Linked DNA regions of Homo sapiens. The protein of the gene in region 1 interacts with the protein of each later gene in a pairwise test. Each region holds a gene or a part of one and is shown on either strand. Other genes may lie near its edges.

Region 1 (6,991 bases):
TACGTGTATGTGTATATACGTGTATATACACGTATATATGTATATATACGTGTATATATACGTATATACGTGTATATATATGTATATATATAAAGTGGCAGGGTGCAGTGGCTCACGCCTCTCATCCCAGCACTGTGGGAGGCCGAGGTGGATAGATTGTTTGAGCCCAGGAGTTTGAGACCAGCCTGGGCAACATGCAAAACCCAGTCTCTACAAAAAAAAATGTGGCCAGGCATGGTGGCATGTGCCTGTGGTCCAGCTACATGGGAGGCTGAAGCAGGAAGATTGCCTGAGCCCAGGAGGTTGAGGCTGCAGTGAGCTGGGTTTGCGCCATTGCACTTCAGCCTGGGCAACAGAGGGAGACCCTGTGTCAAAAAATATATATATACATACATACATACATACATATATATATATATATATATATATATATATACACATACACATACATACATATATATATATATATATATATACATATATATACATACATATATATATTTAAAGTGCAAATGGCTTTTATTGAGGGCCTACTGTGTGCTGGGCAACATGTCTGCAAGGGTCCTGCTTTACCTCCCTGTACTTTGCACCGGCCAGGGAGGAGGGTGCTGGGGAGACCCAAACATCAAGCTGGGGGAGGGTGCTGAGGTGGAGGTAGAAGGGGGCAGAGGGGCCCCTCAGCTGAGTCCTTAGGGAGGGAAGGGATCCTGGGGTCTGCCCAGCTTGAAACAGAAGCTGGGGGCCACAAGGCCCTGAATCAGGCCAGGCAGGGTACAGGGGCCTGGGAGTCCTGCTCCTTTGCTGTGAGACCTTTAGGGAATGGGATCCATCTCTGAGTGGTTTCTCCCGATGAAAGACAGGTCCAGAGGGCAGAGTGGCCATGCCCAAGGTGGTGGCCAGGTCTGACAGGATCTGCAGTCCCTGCCAACAACCTCCTCCTCTGCTCTCTGGGCAGTAGTGGCCTGCTCCTGGACACTGCTTTGCAGTCATCACCTGGACCTGGTGGGACAGGAGGAGCAGGAAGAGAAAGAGAATTAGAGTCAGACAGAATCAGAGACAGACAGACACTGACAGATATAGGAAAACAGGGGCAGAGACAGACAGAGAGGGAAAAAGCTAGAGAGGGATGCGGAGACAGCTGAAGGTACAATTATAGACAGACACAGAGGCCAGGCACAGTGGCTCACGCCTGTAATCCCCAGCACTTTGGGAGACCGAGACGGCTGGATCATTTGAGGTCAGGAGTTGAAAACCAGCCTGGCCAACATGATGACACCCTGTCTCTACTAAAAATACAAAAGGCCAGGCGCGGTGGCTCACGCCTGTAATCCCAGCACATTGGGAAGCTGAGGCGGGCAGATCACCTCAGGTCAGGAGTTCAAGACCAGCCTGGCCAACATGGTGAAACCCTGTCTCTACTAAAAATACAAAATTTAGCCGGACGTGGTGGTGGGCGCCTGTAGTCCCAACTACTCGGGAGGCTGAGACAGGAGAATCGCTTGAATCCGGGACGCGGGAGGCAGAGGTTGCAGTGAGCTGAGATCATGCCACTGCACTCCAGCCTGGGCAAAAGAGCAAGACTCCATCTCAAAATAAATAAATAAATAAAAATAAAAATAGAAAAATTAGCCAGGCCTTGTGGTGGGTGCCTGTAATCCCAGTTACTGGGGAGGCTGAGGCAGGAGAATCTCTTGAGCCCGAGAGGCAGAGGTTGCAGTGAGCCAAAATCACGCCACTGCACTCCAGCCTGGGCGACAGAGCGAGACTCCGTCTAAAAAAAACAAACAAACAACAACAACAACAAACATAAAGGCAAAGCTAGAGATGGAGAGGGAGAGAGAAGGCTGAGAAGGGGAAAACAGCCCCAGACACAGTTATGCCATCAAAGGGGAGAGCAAGCCAAGGTCTACGGGGCTGGGGCCTCTTCCCGCCCTGGCCTCACCTAGAGCTCATCTCGGGGCTGGGGTTGGAGGCTGTGCCCGCTGCTGCCAGTCAGGTCCAGGCGGGGGCTGCGCAGGGTCTTTTGGGAGCCGCTCCAGCTGATGAGGCGGCCGCTGTCATCATCCCATGGAGAGGATGTCTCCGTGTCACTGAGCCACTCGGCGTCCCCGGCATAGTGGGTAGGGGCAGCGAGCAGGGGCTGGGCGGAGAAGGCCACCAGGTCCCGTGGCCAGAAGTGTGCCTTGTACTGCTCGCTGTAAGGTGAGAGGATAGCTCAGGGGGATTGAGGCGGGCCCCTACTCCCCGGACACATGCCTGCCCGGAGCCAGGCACCTTGCCTGCCCAAAGCACCTCACTCCCCGCCATCTAGTCCTCACAGCGGCCCTGAGCAGTGGGACTTCTACTACCTCCATTTTCCAGATGAGGAAACAGAGGCTGAGAACAAGGAAGTCATTTGATTAAAAACTGCATGCAGCCGAGCGCAGTGGCTCATGCCTATAATCCCAGCACTTTGGGAAGCCGAGACGGGCGGATCACCTGAAGTCGGGAGTTCAAGACTAGCCTGACCAACATGGCAAAACCCCATCTCTACTAAAAACACAAAAATTGAGGCTGGGTACAGTGGCTCATGCCTGTAATCCCGGCACTTTGGGAGGCCCAGGCAGGCAGATCACTTGAGGTCAAGGAGTTCGACACCAGCCTGGCCAACATGGAGAAACCCTGTCTCTACTAAAAATACAAAAAAGTTAGCTTGGTGTGGTGGCAGGCACCTGTAATCCCAGCTACTCAGGAGGCTGAGGCAGGAAAATCAGTTGAACCTGGGAGGCGGAGGTTGCAGTGAGCCAAGATTGCGCCACTGCACCGCACTGGGTGACAGTGCAAAACTCCATCTCAAAAATAAATAAATAAATAAATAAATAAATAAAAATTAGCAGGGTGTGGTGGCACTTCCCTGTAATCCCAGCTACTCAGGAGGCTGAGGCAGCAGAATTGCTTGAACCTGGGAGGCAGAAGGTGCAGTGAGTCAAAATCATGCCACTGCATTCTAGCCTGGGCAACAGAGCAAGACTCCATTTCAAAAAAAAGCCTGCATGCACTGTGCAAAGTACACACCGAGAATGGACTGACTCTAAGGCTAGGCTGAGCCACTCCTTGGTGACCTGGGCCAAGTGGCTTGGCCTTGCCAGTCCCAGTCTCCCCATCTGCCAGGTGAGGGGACTTCCTGCTGACTGAGGTGAGTTCCTGGAGGGGACGCCTCTGCCCTGCCATGCCCGGCCCCCATCAGAGCCTCACTTGGGGTGCTGGTCGAACATGATGGGCAGGAACTCGTCCACGGGCAGCATGCGGCGCAGAGGCTGTGAGGCCAGCAGCTTGCGGGCACCCGCCAGACGCAGGGCATAGGCCAGCGTCCAGTAGGAGTACCCAGCCACCACCAGGCCCGGCAGCCCCTCCACGGCCGTCTCCTTCTCAGGGTTCACCTGCTTCCGTCCGAGGTAGCTGTAAGTGACACCAAGGGGCCCAGGAGTCACTTAGGTCCTGGGTGTCATGGGACCCTCCCACACCCGCTCCTACAGGGCCAGGCTCTCAGGGGATGGGCCGGCCAGGGTCCCAAGCAGGAAAAGGCAGACTCCGGAGGCCCACCCTGCCCCCTTGTCCCTGAGGGTGCAGGCTGCCTACATCAGGTCCCAAGACAGTTTCTCTGCCTCCACATCCTCCATCAGCCGCTCCAGCCGCCCCCTGAAGTTGCTCTCAAAGCGCACGTCATCCTCAAACACCAGGACCCGGGCCAGGCCCCTGGCAACCACCTGTGGCATACAATGGGGTGGGAGATGGCTCTTCGGAGTTAAACAACCCCCCTCCCTCCACGCTGAAGCTCACAGCCTCTGCCTGGCCTCAGTTGGCCTGGCCACATCATGCAGTTGCCCCAAAGCCTGCTGGGGGCCCCACTGCCTGGGACCGGAAATCCCAACCTCGCTCTGGCATTTGAGGATCTCCAGATAGAATCATGATGGTAACCGTGGCCCTTGCTACATTCCCTGAGTGCTACTGTGCCCCAGGGCTGTGCCACTGCGTATCTGCAGGGGCCCTCAGGAGGCAGGAGATGATGATCCTCAATCGCAGGAAGGAGGTGGACATGCAGGGATGGGAAACTGCCTGTCCAAGGACACACAGCCAGGAAGTGGCAGAGCTGGGATATGAACCCGCATCTGCTGAACACCAGGGCCCAGCTTGTCACTTTGGCCTCCTGCAATTTTCCTTTTTTTTTGAGACGAAGTTTCACTCTTGTTGCCCAGACTGGAGTGAAATGGCCCCCCAAGTCAGGGGGCTGCATGGAAGAGGAGCAGGAACGGTGGAGGCCAAAGCAGCCATGGCCAAGACCAGGAGCCATCTCCCCTCCCACTCCTCCAGCTGCCTGAGTGCAAGCATGACAGATGGTGGCTGGGCCCAGAAGCCCAACTCTCTGGGGGCGGGGAAGTGGCTTGCAGTTCCCATCAAAAGATGGTCTTGGCTCACTGCAACCTCTGCCTCCCGGGTTCAAGTGATTCTCCTGCCTCAGCCTCCCAAGTAGCTGGGATTACAGGTGCCCACCACCACACCGGGCTAATTTTTTTTTTTTTTTTTTTTTTTGAGACGGAGTTTTGCTCTGTCGCCCGGGCTGGAGTGCAGTGGCACAATCTCGGCTCACTGCATGCTCCGCCTCCTGGGTTCACGCCATTCTCCTGCCTCAGCCTCCCGAGTAGCTGGGACTACAGGCGCCGCCACCACGCCTGGCTAATTTTTTTGTATTTTTAGTAGAGACAGGGTTTCACCGTGTTAGCCAGGATGGTCTCGATCTCCTGACCTCGTGATCCACCCGCCTCGGCCTCCCAAAGTGCTGGGATTACAGGCGTGAGCCACGGCGCCCGGCCAACGCCGGGCTAATTTTTGTATTTTTAGTAGAGACGGGGTTTCACCACGTTGGCCAGGCTGGTCTTGAACTCCTGACCTCGTGATCTGTCTGCCTCAGCTGGGATTACAGGCGTGAGCCACCGCACCTGGCCTGGCCTCCTGCTATTTTCTAAAGGAAGCTGGGCTGGGTGGGGGGTGGGAAGACCCCAGCCCCGAATATCCAAAAGAAAAAGTACTTTTGATAACTTTTGGAAAAGTTACTTTAGAATAACTTTTGGAAAACTACTTTTGATAACTTCTGTGAAAAGGAAATCAGCTCAGAAAGTAGTGAAGCCAGGAGCGGTGGCTCATGCCTGTAATTCCAGCACTTTTGGAGGCTGAGGTGGGTGGAATCACTTGAGCTCAGGAGTTTGAGATCAGCCTGGCCAACATGGCGAAACCCTGTCTCTACAAAAAATACAAAATTTAGCTGGGTGTGGTGGTGCGCGCCTGTAGTTTCAGCTCCTCGGGGGTGCTGAGGTGGGATAATTGCTTGAGCCCGGGAGGTCCAGGCTGCAGTGAGCCAAGATCACGCCACTGCACTCCCGCCTGGGTGCCAGAGCAATACCCTGTCTCAAAAAAAAAAAAAAAAAAAAAAGTAGTGAACCATGTCATCCTCCAATTTGTTCAGGGACGGTAAAAAAGCCAACATAGGCTGGGCATGGTGACTCAAGCCTGTAATTCCAGCACTTTGGGAGGCCGAGGTGGGCAGATCACCTGAGGTTGGAAGTTCGAGACCAGCCTGACCAATATGGCGAAACCCCCTGTCTACTAAAAATAGAAAAATTAGCCAGGTGTGGTGGCACATGCCTGTAATCCCAGATACTTGGGAGGCTGAGACAGGAGAACCGCTTCAACCCAGGAGGCAGAGGTTGCAATGAGCCAAGATTGTGCCACTGCACTCCAGTCTGGGTGACAGAGCAATACTCCATCTCAGAAAACAAAACAAAACAAAAACCCATAATGCTCACATACACGTGCACATATATTTGGCTATAGCAGAGAACACAAACAAGGAATCCATGTCCCATCTCCTGGAAGGGCTGCCCTTGGAGGGCCCAGTTCCCATTCTCTCCTGCCGTGTCCAGCAACCTCTTTCCTGCGCTCACACTCCCAGCCCCTGGGCCGAGGCTTCTTGGCCAAGTACTGAGCACATGCTAAGCCCCAGGCTTCCTTCTTTCTGCTCCTAAACACCTTCCTGCCTCAGGGCCTTGGCACCCACTGTTCTCTTCTGCCTAGAAGCCTCTTCTCCCGGCCCCTCAATGGTGAGGTCCATTCTGACCCCCTCCCACACGAGGCACCTCTCAAAGTGGCCCATACCTCTCCCCTCCACTGCAAGCTTGGTTTTGATTTCCATAATCCCGCTCTGGTCCCTGAGCCCCAGGGGGATCCCTTTATTGCAGGAAGGAGCAGACATGCATTGTTCCTGTCCTCCTCTGTGTTCTCAGAGCAGAATATCTCCTAGCACATAGTAGATGCTCAAGAGAGACTGCAGAATGAAAACAAGCACCGCTTAGTGGTGCCCACTGGGGTGTTGAACACAGAGGAGATTGAAAGCTGCTGGCCAGGTTTTGATGAATGTCTTCATTCACTCACTCGTTCACAGAGCAGTGAATAGAACAAACTGGCCCCGTTCTCCCCGAAGGCTGTGGATGGAGGAAGCAGGCACCCTCACCTCTTCCCAGATGGAGTAATGGCTGAGGAAGCAGCCCACCTCGCCCTTGGTCAGAGTGCGGCCCGAGTAAGGGTCCTGGTAGCCCGGGAGCAGGTCTACGCCGAGGTTCCTGATGGCACTGCTGTTGAGCATCCTGAGGGACACAGGTGTGGCGGGGTGAGGGGTGCCTGCCAGAGACCCCTCCAGAGGGGCCAGGCCTGTGCATGTTGGGGACAGTCACACTGGAGTCGGGTTTGAAGAAGGTTTCTGCCTTGTAACTCCTTTGTGTGACCTGAAGCTGTCAAGGGACTGGACCTGGGGAACTGGAGCCCCTGTTGCCCAGGCTGGAGTGCAGTGGCACCATCTCAGCTCACTGAAACCTCTACCTCCCAGGTTCAAGTGATTTTCCTGCCTCAGCCTCACAAGTAGCTGAGATTACAGGTGCCCAGCTAATGTTTTTTTTTTTTT
Region 2 (7,035 bases), on another chromosome or scaffold:
AAAGTGCTGGATTACAGGCATGAGCCACGAGCCACTGCACCCAGCCTGCTTATCATAAGCATTTATGTGCTGCTTTCTTTTACCACCAATCAGGAGCAATCCCACCAAAACCAGCAACTTTGTTAATCTCTTAGTCTTAGAAAAGAAATAAAATTGCCACCTCTTCCTCTCCCAAAACCACCATCCATCATTTTACTTATCTGCTACCAGAGGAAGAGGAAGCCAAGAGAATACAGGCCCTTGAGGAGGGGCTGCTCCCCTATTCCCGCCACAGTAAGCACAGCACTGCTTGCAACTAGAACTTCATTCATTAATTTTTTACAAAAGCAGGTGAGAAACATAATAGAGGAAAATGTAGTCCTAGCAGCAACAACATGAAGGCTGAATGAGTGGCTCCCACAGCACAGCCGAAACCCACCCCTTTAAGTGACGGAGAAGCTGAGGAACAGCTCTAATCCACGGATCGCCAGGAGACAGCACAGCTGGAAGGACCTGAGCCTTGCCCCTGGGCTTCTGCCATCTAAACATAGGAAACACTTGTGGCTTTCCACTAATGATGACACTGAATCCAGTATTCCTCCCACTCCTTTTTCAAAATAGCAGTGGGTATAAAAAGTCAAAGTTGTGCAGACAAGTGAGAAAAAGAAACAGACATCCGCAGACCCTCAGGCCCATTCCAGGCAGAACCGCCCGCTCCCCACACCCGCTGCTGGGGTCCACACTTTCTCCTTCTCATTCAGGACTCTTGATCGCGGGGCCTATCCAGATCCTTGCAGCATGCGGCACGGGTTCCACGTGTGCGTGGGCAGCCTGGCCTTTCTGTGCAGCATCCCCTGATCTCCACTGGCCTTTCCCCTCCACTCCACTCAGTGACCCAGCCCAGGGCAGTCTTCCTGCTCGAAATTACACCATCGCCAAAATTCCGGCTGCCGCTCTCCGACCCGTTTCTTCTGGCAGCAGGCTGGTTCCTCGGCCCCACCGTGCTGACTCCTTGGCCTCCTGAACTCCTCATCCGGCCCTTCTCCGTTTTTTCAGCGGCTTCAACAGGACATTCAAATTCCCTTTCCGCTGCCTCCACCTGGTAAAATCCCACCGGAGTGCAGCTTTCCCTCCTCCTGCTCCAGGAGGTGCTGAGCTGAGCACTGCTGGGTGGAGTCAGGCACAGGGCAGGGGGGTCCTGAGCCAGTCCTCATCAGCCCCCCATGGCCTGCACATTGCTGCCTGGCAATCTAAGGCTTCTTGCTTTATCTCAACGTCCATTTTACTCTAAACCACTTCAAACCTCCACTTCCTGCCCCACACTTCCATTCTTAGCAGACAACTTCCCCTACTTCACACACAGAAACCCAAAGCCATCAGTGTGAACTCCCTTACCTTCCTGCTGCCACCAAACCACCAAACCACCAAACACACCAACTAAGAACACCCATGCTCTTGTCCTTTCCTGGTTCCCACAGAGCTGAGATCCACCTGTCCACCCTGCTTTACAGCCAACCCCTTACCTGCTCAGGGAATTGATGCTATTGGGCTTTTTCCTCTAGTGAACATGTTCTCACTCTCTGAAAATGCATCCATCAACTTTTAAACATGAAGTCCCTTCCATCTTAAACAGAAAGCTTACTTCACTTCACCTTCCAGCCTCTGTACACTCATACATCCATTCATCCATCCATCCATCCATCCACTAACTGGCTCAATAAATACTGAGTGCTGCTATGTGCCTGTTCTAAGTGCTGGGTAAGGGATCCAGCTCCTGGTTAAAAATCTATGTGCTGGCTGCTACACCAAAAATACCATAGGCCAGGCACTGTGGCTCACGCCTGTAATCCTGGCACTTTGGGAAGCTGAGGCAGGCGGATTGCTTGAACCCAGTTCAAGACCTGCCTGGGCAACATGGCGAGTCCTCCATCTCTACAAAAAATACAAATATTAGCCAGGTATGGGGGCACACACATGTAGTGCCAGCTACTTGGGAGGCCGAGGTGGGAGGATCACCTGAGCCCGGGAGTCAGAGGTTGCAGTGAGCCGAGATCACACCACTGCACTCCAGTGTAAGTCAGAGTCTCCCAAAGAGCCTAAACAGCTGTGGAAGCTCCTCACTGGAGGGCCGACTGTGGAATCTCGGCACTGGAGGGCTGAGCTTTGAAACAACTGATGAGAACCTGAGAAGCCAATCTGAGCGATGGGGAACGCTCGTGGACTGTGTAGTCATGAGATCCAAGCACCAAGCACTCTGGGGCTTTGGGTTTGTCCTGTATGCCGCTGTGAAGGAGGTGGATGCGCCATGAATGCAAAGCCACACAAGGTGGATGAAGAGTTGTGGAACCAAAGGGCTGTCTCGAGAAGATTCTCAAAGACGAGGTGCCCAACTGTGAAAAAGATATTTGCTGGCGGCATTAAAGAAGACATTGAAGAACATCGCCTAAGAGATCTTGAACAGTATGGAAAAACTGAAGTGACTGAAATCATGACTGACAGAGGTAGTGCCAAGAAAAGGGGCTATGCCTTCGTGCCTCTGACAACCACGACGCTGTGGACAAGACTGTCACTCAGAAATACCATACTGTGAATGGCCAAAACTGTGAAGTTAGGGAAGTCCTGTGAAAGCAAGAGATGGCTAGTGCTTTATCCAGCCAAAGAGGTCGAAGTGCTTCTGGAAACTTTGGTGGTGGTTGTGGAGGTGGTTTTGGTGGGAATGACAACTTCGGTCATGGAGGAAATTTCAGTGGTCATGATGGCTTTGGTGGCAGCTGTCCACAGCGGTGGCGGTGGATACAGTGGCAGCAGGGATGGCTGTAATGGATTTGGTAATGATGGAATCAATTCTGGAGGTGGCAGAAGCTCCAATGATTTTGGCAATTACAACAATCAGCCTTCAAATTTTGGACCCATAAAGGGAGGAAACTTTGGAGGCAGAAGCTCTGGCCCTTATGGTGGTGGAGAACAATACTTTGCCAAATTTTACTTTACTTTACAAAACCAAGGTGGCTACGGTGGTTCCAGTAGCAACAGTAGCCATGGCACTGGCAGAAGATTTTAACCCATTTATGCCTGAGGTTGCACTTTTTGAATTTGAAAAATCAGACCTTGGCGATGACCTTGAACAGGAGAACATAAATAACTCCCACATGCTTAGCGTTCCAATAATGGAATACCAGGCATAAATGGGTTCACAAAACCAAGGTGGCTATGGTGGTTCTAGTAGCAGCAGTAGCCATGGCACTGGCAGAAGATTTTAATCACTGCCAGGAAACAAAGTTTAGCCGGAAAGGAGAGCCAGAGAAGCGATAGGGAAGCTACAGGTTACAAGAGATTTGTGAACTCAGTCAGCCAAGCACAGTGGTGGCAGAGCCCAGCTGCTACAAAGAAGATATGTTTTAGACAATACTCACGTGTATGAGCAAAAAACTCCAGGACTGTATTTGTGACTAATTTTATTAACAGGTTATTTTCGTTTCTGTTCTGTGGAAAGTACCAAGCATTCCAACAAAGGGTTTTAATGTAATTTTTTTCTTTTGCACTCATGCTGTTGATTGCTAAATGTAATAGTCTGATCATGAGACTGAATAAATGTGTCCTTTTAAAAAACGTGCTGTGTAAAGTTAGTCTCCTCGGAAGCCATCTTGGTAAACTCCCCCAAGAGTGTGAAGTCAGAATTCCTTCAGGGTGATGCCAGGTTCTACTTGGAACTTATTTACACTCTGCTCGGGTGGAGAAGCCACTGTCTTCAGTGAGCTCGGTGTAGCTGAACTGACAGTTACTGTTGTGACCTGAAGTTCACCACCAAAGGGGATCACCCAAGCAAAGTCACAGAATTATTAGTTATAAAAATGATTGTTGGCACATCCCATGCAATATATCTAAACTGAATAATGGTACCAGATAACATTATAGATGGGAATGAAGCTTGTGTATCATCCATAATTGTATGTAGCTAATAAACTATTTAATTCTCTTAAAAAAACACTGTAGACTGGGTAGCTTATAAACAACAGACACTTATTTCTCTCAGTTCTAGAGACTGGAAGTCCATGATCAAGGCGCCAGCAGATTCGGCGTCTGGTGAGGCATCTCTGGTTCACAGATGACACCTTCTGAGTCCTCACACGATGGAAAGGGCAATGGATCCTTCTTTTCCTCAACTTCCCAGGCTCAAGCAATCCTCCCACCGCAGCCTCCCATGTAGCTGGGACCACAGGCACACACCATCACGCTCAACTAATTTTTTAATTTTTTGTAGAAGCGGGGTCTCGCCATGTTGCCCAGACTGGTCTTGAACTCCTGGGCCCAAGCAATCCTCCTGCCTCAGGCTTCCAAAGTGCTGGGATTATAGGCATGAGCCACTGCATGTGGCCTGGGGCCTCTTTTTTAATAGGGCATGAAACCCATTCCTAATCACATCCCAAAGGCACCTCCTCCTCATACCATCACATTGGGGATTAAGTTTCAACATAGGAATTCTGGGGGGGACACAGACATTCAGACCACAGCACTGTGAGTGATTTTGGGGCTGGCCACAGGCAATTACACAGGCTCTAGCAGGCAGGCCTCCCGGGGAAAGCTCCCTCTGCACACCAGACTTGGAGCACAGCCCAGGCAGTGTAGCCCCTGGGGAGGTGCAGTCAAGGTCCCAGGCCCTTCGGCCCACCACACTTTTTCATGTAGTTCCCTTCCTAGCCCAGTGCCTTATTTCCCAGGAATCCTTATCTGAGGCTGTAGGAGTAGACGGGACCCCCAGCTGGCACACGCCTGGCACAGTGGTTGGGAAGCTCACCTTGACCATTCTAGCTTCAGCCCTCCCCTGGCTGAAACCCTGCAGACACAAGTCACTTCCGTGTCCTTAATTCCAAGGAACATTTTTGAAGCATCAGTATCCTTTCCAACTCAACAGCACAGGACACTTTGGCACTCCCTCCTGCTTACAATGTTCTCTTCAACTCCCATGTCCCACCGGCTCTCCTGACTGTCCTCCCGCCTCGCCAGCTGCTCCTGCTTGGGGTCTCCTCTGCCGCCTTAGCTCCTTCTACCTGGAAAGACAGCTTCCTCCTTGTGTTTCTCTACACTCCCCCTAACCACCTCACCCACACCTACCATGGGAACAGTGAGGGAAATAGATAAGGTAGGTATACTTACAATCTTCTAAGTGGGAAAGGCAGAGAGAGCTTAAATTGTTTATTAGGCATTTTTCTCTTATTACCATCTTCCACGCGGTGATCTTTGAAGTGAAACATGATAAATTAATGCCATTTGTAAATATGAAATAACTCAGTCAACAAGCAAATGACTTGTCTCAACCTGTGTGCTATGGTCTGAGTGTTTGCTGAAATCCTCGACCCCATGGTGATGGTACTGGAAGATGGCCCTTCAGGAGATGATCAGGTCATGGGGATGGAGTCCTCATGAATGGGATCCACGCCCTAATAAGACGAGAAAGAGACTAAAGCTCTCTGCTCTCTGCCATGTCAAGATATAACCAGAGGCAACAGTGTGACACCAGGAAGGGGGAGGCCTCACCAAGAACCCATGAGTGCACCTTGATCTCTGACTTCCGGCCTCAAAACCCGTAAGAAATAAATTTCTGTTGTTTATAAATCACAAAGTCTAAGGTATTTTATTACAGCAGGCTGAATGGACTAAGACATCTCGCAAATTGTCAGCAGGGGTTAGTAGGACTCCCACAAGAGAACTCTGTAGAATGTTCCGGCATTATGTTCTTGTCATCTAACTCCCAACAATTACCTTATGCCAATGCCCTCAGCTCTCCTTGGTAGTTACCCAAATCCAAACAACTCACTCATCTGTTTGTTCAACAAGTAGTTATGAACAGCTATTAGACACCAGGTACTTGGTAGGTTCTACATACACAGAAAGGAATAAGACAGCACCTAGCGTACTTACATTCAGATGGGGGAAAATGGGCAATAAACTAATGAGGCAGGTTCTACTAAGGACATAAATAGGGGCAGAGTAACTGGGTCAGGAAGAGCCTCTCTAAAGAGGTGACCAAGTGAAGACATCAGGAAGTGACCAATCCAACTCTGAAAAGAGCCAGGAAGGGGCATTCCTGAAAAAAGAAATGCAACTGCCAGGTCTCCCAGGCAGAAGAAAATGGCTCCAACTGAGGAGGAGAAAGAGGGCAGGGCAAGGCAAGCACTGGGGAGAGGGTGGGGAGGCGGGCCGACAAGCAGTGCAGGGCTGAGAGGCCAAGGGAGGGATCTGGATTTTACTCAAGTGCTGCAGGAAGTCAATGAAGGATGTGATCAGGGGAGGAATATGATCAACTCTCTTAAGATCTGGCTCAATATCTCTCCCTCCTTGACTTCTTCCCAGGCATCTCGAAGGAGAGGTCCCAGAACTCTGGCTACCGTGCCTCTCCCCGGGGCTCAAAGCGCCTGCATAGGAGGATGATGCAGCCTGGATGTCAGGATGCTCCCCTATGACCTTCACTGCCTCGCCCAACTCCTCAACTGGCCTAGAACCATCCCTGTCAAGACCCAATTCCAATGTGCCCGCCATCCTGGTTACGTCTTGCTGCACAAGACGTGCAACACTCTCAGGTCATCCCTCACCCCATTCAGGTCTGTGCGCCTTTAATCCCATCTCATCTCCTACCCATCTCCAAAAACCAACAGCAAACCTCCCTATGTCCTCACCCTCTTCTCTGATGATCCTCTCACCTTCCGGCTAGGTTTGAAATTTAGTCTCCAGGACCAGGGCTCTCCCCTGTGAATCCTGTACCACTTGGACAGGCAGTGAGCTAGGTGTCTGCCCTCCTCACTGCCACTTCCTGCCCCTTCCTCCTCCCTAGAGAAACCTGCTTTCCAAGTCACTCCTCAATAGCCCCCTAGCAACAATTCCCTCTTGCCTGCACCATAATTTTCCCCTTTCCTGGACCATTCCCAATGCACAGAAACATCCAGTATTTTCCTTGGGAAAATGACATGTTCCCCGACCCCACTGCATCCTTCAACTACCACCCACTTCTTTGCTCCACAGGAAAAATCACTGAGATGGCCATACCATCTCCATCTTCTT

The links.
Region 2: the proteins of CERCAM (region 1) and SFT2D1 interact in binary tests that used the Homo sapiens proteins (3 or more experiments, as listed by UniProt).

The regions. Positions count from the first base shown.
Region 1 is NC_000009.12:128,430,857-128,437,847, reverse strand, and holds the end of CERCAM (inactive glycosyltransferase 25 family member 3 isoform a precursor), read right to left. Parts: intron 6,678-6,991; coding exon 6,545-6,677; intron 3,747-6,544; coding exon 3,619-3,746; intron 3,439-3,618; coding exon 3,235-3,438; intron 2,196-3,234; coding exon 1,943-2,195; intron 1,000-1,942; 3' UTR 501-999; downstream 1-500. UniProt on the Homo sapiens protein: Probable cell adhesion protein involved in leukocyte transmigration across the blood-brain barrier. Does not express any beta-galactosyltransferase activity in vitro.
Region 2 is NC_000006.12:166,332,515-166,339,549, forward strand, and holds part of SFT2D1 (vesicle transport protein SFT2A), read right to left. Parts: intron 1-7,035. UniProt on the Homo sapiens protein: May be involved in fusion of retrograde transport vesicles derived from an endocytic compartment with the Golgi complex.